Regions from separate parts of the Homo sapiens genome. Here region 2 is linked to region 1. The links come from fine-mapping of genetic effects on gene expression. Tissue or cell type: whole blood. Region 1 holds a variant in brackets; the other region holds the start of a gene. All regions are shown on one strand. Distances are between the middles of the regions. Region 1 has its middle 1.5 kb from the start of GPR27. Region 2 holds the start of EIF4E3 (eukaryotic translation initiation factor 4E family member 3).

Region 1 (2,901 bases):
GGGCTTCACTGCGGACAGGGCCTCGCCACCGTCCGCAGCCCCCCGCATCCTCCTCCGTCTCCTCCTACTCCTCCGCTGCTGCCGCCGCGCCTCTTGGCTCTGCCCCCCGCCGGGCCCGCCGCCGCCGCTGCCGCCGCTGCCGCCGCCGCCGCCGCCGCCGCGGAGCCCCCTCCCCTCCGCCGGAGCGCGCAGCGCGGCCGCCGCCGCCAGCCCCGCCGAGGCATCCCGCACCGCCTGGGCCCGGCTGGGCTGGGGGCGCCTCCGCAGCAGCCGCGGGGTCGGGAGGCGGCCGGGAGGGAGGCAGGGCCCAGGACGCAAGGTGGCGACAAGTCGCGTTTGGCCCCAGGTAACGGGGGTCCGGCGGCGGCGCCCGCGCTGGGGTCACGGTGGCCGTGCGCGGGGGAGGTTGCCTGGGCTGGCAGGGTCGGGAGGCCTCAGAGGGGACAGGAATATCTGGAATGAGCCTTCTGCCCGAAAGCTGGGAGTAATTTACGATAGTAATAGTCATCGTAATCCTAAAACCGCTGATACTCAGGTGCGCACTGATGTGGGTGGCAGTGTGCTGGGGAGCTTGGCAAGCATTATCTCCCTCAACAGTAATCACGAAGTTGTTGCCATCCTTAATCCCACTTTATACCTCAGGAAGCAGAGGCTTGGAGGTCAAGGGAGTTGAGAGCCGGGAAGTAGCGGAGCTGGGATTCAAATTTCGCTTGGTCTGATTTCCAGTGCTGGACTCACAGCGACTCCGCAGCATCCCCTGCTCGCTAACTCATCCGTGATCCCGGTGAAGGACCTATATCAGGGAAAAGAAATGCAGCATTTCATCTTTAAGTGACTTGGAAGGTGAACCCTATGCCACCTTCCTCCCAGGATATCTATTTTCTGGGTAAGCCTGAAAGGGCAGCCCCTGTTATGATTCTCAGACACACCGCATTTGTCTCGCAGGACCTTGCATGTGCTGGTACCTCTGCCTGGACCAGCCCCACAACAGGCTCCCTCTCCGTAGGGCCTCCTTCTAACCCGTCTGTTTTACTCTGTATCCCTGCCCTCTAGTCATTTCCTTCTTAGCACTTATAATTTGTCATTATATACTTTCATTTCTTTTTAAAAATCATGCTCTTCT[A/G]ACTAGGCTCTAAGCTCTTTGAAGGCAAGGGATCATGCCTGGTTTTTGGTACCACTGCATCCCCAGTGCTTAGCATGGTAAAGCCAGAATTAAGCAACGCATTGTTTCTCACCCACACTCATTTGTTTTTTCTTCTGTGCAGAAAATTATTTGTTGCCTACTGATTACATGCAAGGCAGGCACCTTGATGGGCATTTTCAGGATAGTGCAAGATCATAGAGGGCCTTAATGATCAGGCTAAGAAGTCGAAACTTTAGTCTGCAGGCAGTCAGGAGCCCTTGAAATCTTTTGAGAAGGGGAGCGACATGACTAGGTGTGCTCCAGGAACATTATTCTGGCAGCAGTGTTGAGGAGGGATGACAGAGCAGAGCCGGTAAACCTAGTCCAGAGCCTCAAACTTCACTATGTGCAGAAATCACTGGGGACCCTGTTAAAATGAAGATTCTGATTTAGTAGTTCTGGAATGGGGCCGGAGGTTCTGCATTTCTAACAAGCTCCGGGGTGAGACTAATGCTGTTGGTCTGCTGACCTTACTTTGAATAGTAAGGCCCTTGGGGACAGTTTGGATATTTTTTTAAAAATCTAAGTGATTTTTCAAGAAAATCAACTATTGAGCACCTGACTTGGGACTCCTAAGTGGCCAGCAGCAAGTGGCTGACCAGGCACATCTGTAAATGTATGTTGATAGAAAATAGATTTTGGAGGGTGTATGGGTTAGGAATTGCAGTTTGATACTAGTAGCAAAAAACGTGTACATGAGTTTATTTTCCTCGTGAAAGAAGAAGTTTGGAGGTCAGTAGTTGCTGACATTGATTTATTGGCTCAAGGACTGAATCTCTGAAAATCTTTTAGCCCTTCCCTCATGATCACAGTAGGCTGCCGACGCCCCAGCCATCATTTCTTCATTCCAGGCAGAAAGAAGAAAAGGGAAAAGAGCAGCAATATTCCAGCCATCTAAGTAGGAAGAGCTTTCTAGAAGCCCTACATTATAAACAAACACTTAAACATATCATTGGCTATCAATTGAGAGTGAGCACTTGAGCAAGGGAGGGTAGGAAATGGTTTCTTATTTCTTTGTTTAAAGTTAGACCCATGGCTGTAGAGAATTCGATCCTGCCTTGCTGTGGCCCTTAGCGCTTGGGCTGCCTCTGCCCAGAGGAGGGAATGCCTTCTTAATAACCCACACAAATTCACCAACTCTGGTTGCTTTATGGTAATACTAATGGCAGCCACCTTTTACTGAGCACTTGCCGTATGCCAAGCATTGTGCTAAATTCTCGACATGTGTTATTTAATGTAATCATTGTAATGGCCAGATGTGGTATGTGCTGTTACTGTCTTCATTTTGCAGAGGAGGCAGAAGGGTTAATTTGTTCACGCTTTCACCACTTACACTTACTTTACACTTACTTTCAAGTAAGTGTAAGAGCTGGAAGTCTGACTTTATTTATTTTGAAACAGGGTCTCACTCTGTCACCTAGGCTGGAGTCAGTGGCATCATCATGGCTCACTGCAGCCTCAACCTCCCAGGCTCAGGCCGTCCTCCTATCTCAGCCTCCTGAGTAGCTGGGACCACAGGCTTATACCACCATGCCCCGCTAATTTTTAAAAAATTATTTGTAGAGGCCGGATGCGGTGGCTCACACCTGTAATCCCAGCACTTTGGGAGGCCGAGGCGGGTGGATCATGAGGTCAGGAGATCGAGACTATCCTGGCTAACACGGTGAAACCCCGTCTCTATTAAAATGCAAAAAATTAGCTGGGCATGGTGGCAGGCG
Region 2 (2,901 bases), 27 kb after region 1:
AGCAACAAGATAAATGCATCTAACCAAAAGCACCCTCCCCTGTTTTAGTGTTGGACAGATTTTATAAAATCTGTCATTGCTTCCAGCATTGTATGTTGTATAGAAGTTAAGTTTAAAGCAGCGGTCTTGTTTTTATTATTGTCACTTTATGTGACCTTGATTACCTTTTAGGGAGGGCATCTACTCTGGGATTCATGACAGTCTGCTATGATGCTGTTGATGCCCCTGAACTCATCTTGTTTTGTAGCTCTTCCATCCCAGCGAATGCTCAAGGCATGAACAGAACACATGCTAGGCCAGGTAGAAGGTCAATGAGGAGATGGCATCCCACGCCCTTCACTGTTCAAAGCCAGAGAGGAACTATCTAGAAATTCAAGTGTAAAGAGGATGTCCATGCTGGTTGTGACATGTGTGTTCACAGGCCTCATGCCTTTGCTTTTCTTTTGAAAAAGAAAGTGACAGAGACCTGGGGAGATGCTGTGTTAGGAGGGCCCCTCCTACTTTGGGCTCAGGAATCTCACCGCCTAAGGGACTTCCTGGGTGCTCAGAGGTACAGGAAGCAGAGCGCTCTGTGTTCACAGGTGCCCGCTTTCCTCCTCCCGACTCGCCGGTGCTTTAGGGCAGATCTGGATACTTTGGCTGATTTTGGGAAATGTTCTCTGAAGTTAGCCACACGTTAAGCCAGGCTTGAGGCCTTCACTGTGGTCACATGGTAGCTCCAGAGGTTGGGATGGGGGCTCTGGCCCCTTCAAATCAGCGGAGTTAGGAAGTATGCTCTCACCAAGAGGAATGCAAAGCCCACCTGCTCCAACCTCATGCCCCAGTCGGTGGTTCTCTTGTTCGTTCTTCTTTCTCGCCCTTTGTTCTGTACTCGCGGGCACTGGAGTCTCTTTATCCATTTGGCCATCGGTTCCCCTCTCCATTTATCTGTCACACCCAACTGTGCTTCCATCTGCCCTCCATCCCTCCTTCTCTCCTCCAGCCATCTGCCAGCCTTCACTCCATCCTTCTGACTGCTGGTATGTCTGTCCATCCCTCCTTCCCTCGCACCACGTGGGTCTGGGGCTCCATCCCCTGTCCCATCCATCCCTCCATCTGTCCCTAGCCTGCCGCTCCATCCCGCTGCCCTTTTGCATGGCTGCAGAGCCAGCCCGCAGACCGTTCCCCGGTCCCTCTCACCCCCGTGGGCCCTCTAGCCCGTCCCCGGCCGCCACTCCAGGCCAGGCCGTCAGTCTCCCACGCTGGGCCCGCGCCTGAGCGGGATCGGCCCCCCATCCCTCCGTGGGTCTGTCTTTGTTCGGCGGCCCCGGCCCGGCCGTGCCTCCCACGGCCCCTCCGCGCGGCTCCCAGGCCCTGAAGGCGGCGGGCGGCGGGCGGCGGGCGGCGGGCGGCTAGCCCGGGGCGGGGCGGGGCGCGCGGGGCGGGGCGGGGCGGGGGCCGGGGGTGACTCAGCCGCGCTCGCCCCGCGGTCCGCGCGTCCGCCGGCCTTGCAGGCGGGGCGGAGAAAATGGCGCTGCCCCCGGCCGCCGCGCCCCCCGCCGGGGCCCGGGAGCCGCCGGGGTCCCGCGCCGCCGCCGCTGCCGCCGCCCCCGAGCCGCCGCTCGGCCTGCAGCAGCTGTCGGCGCTGCAGCCTGAGCCGGGCGGGGTCCCGCTGCACTCGTCCTGGACCTTCTGGCTCGACAGGTGAGGGGGCGCGGGGCCCGCCGCGCACGGCCCCGACCCGGGTCCTGCCGCCACCGCCGCTTTGTCTCGGCGCGGCCCCTCGCCCCGGCCCCGCTCCGCTGTGGCACAGACCTCGGCCCCTCCGCGCGTCCGCCTGCGCACCCCGGGACTCGCCCCGCCGGGTCGGAAGCCAGCTTCGGGCCGCGCCGGGCGGCTGTTCGGCGTCCTCGCCTCCGGGCCGGGGGAGGACAGCGCAGCCCGAAAAGTTTCGGCAACACTTTCTACCCCTTGTTCCCTTCCGATCGGAACGCGGCGTGCTGGCAGGGCCGTGGGAGAGGGTAGGCGAGCTGGGGGTGGCCGCGTCCCTGCTGCAGGGAGAGGGCTGTCCTGCTTACCCCGCGGGGCGCCTGGGAGCTCAGGACACGACCTCAGCTGTGACAGCGCTCGGAAAAGTTGCCCATCCCTTGGGAGGTGTGCGGTGGTGCAATGATTATTGCACGGCGGGCGCTCCCACCCCGTGTCCGGCCGCTGCTGCCGTGGACTCCTCTTCCAGTTCTTCCTCATCCACTGGGCAGGTATTTCCTGAACACCTACAGTGGAGCCACACACCTGCTATGCGCTGGAGATTCAATAATGAGCAGCAGCTGACCTTGTCAGGAAGGGGGTGAATTATGGCTTTCTCAAGGGACAACCCAGGTGCCATCTTTTCAGAAAGACCCCCTGACTACCGTATCTAAAATAGAAACCTTGCTCCCTCGTTTTGTATTCTCCTGCCCTGCCTTCTTTTTCTTCCTAATGCTTAATGCAGCTGGATTTTATTATATATGAATTTGTTTACTTTCAGTCTGTCTCCCCAGCTCCTCAACACCTCCCCTCAGTTAAGGATAAAAGAGCAGTGGATTTTTGTTTTTGGACATTTTGGACCTAGAACTGTGCCTGGTCCCTAGTAAGAACACCAGAAATTGTTATGAATGAATAGATGGATGAATGCAAAGCCCCTTCTTAGTGTCTGCCCTGCAGTGGGTGCCCAATGATGACACCTCAAGGTTGTCCCAAGAGCATTTGGAAATTTTGATGAAACCGTGTCTATTCTGGCTAAGTGTTAGGAAGAAATGTGTGACAGTGTTCTGAGAAGTTTGCTTGGTACACACAAATCTGGTTTTAAAAGGCTTTGCATAAAATGACTGCAAGATTTTGTTTTAAAAAAGTGATATTCATTTTTTTTTTGGTTAAGACAAG

What was found.
Region 2: it holds the start of EIF4E3, and the variant in region 1 is fine-mapped to the expression of EIF4E3 in whole blood (TOPMed, PIP above 0.99).

What each region holds. Positions count from the first base shown.
Region 1 is chr3:71,750,908-71,753,808 of GRCh38, reverse strand. It overlaps a transcript of EIF4E3 not described here. Among named protein-coding and RNA genes, the nearest start is that of GPR27, 1.5 kb to the left of the region's middle. The variant A/G (reference allele first, on the strand shown) is at 1,124.
Region 2 is chr3:71,723,974-71,726,874 of GRCh38, reverse strand. It overlaps EIF4E3 (eukaryotic translation initiation factor 4E family member 3), which reads left to right and starts at 1,473. Exons shown (of 7, transcript NM_001134651.2): 1 at 1,473-1,683. The coding sequence starts at 1,508. RefSeq lists silencers at 1,749-1,818, 1,949-2,068.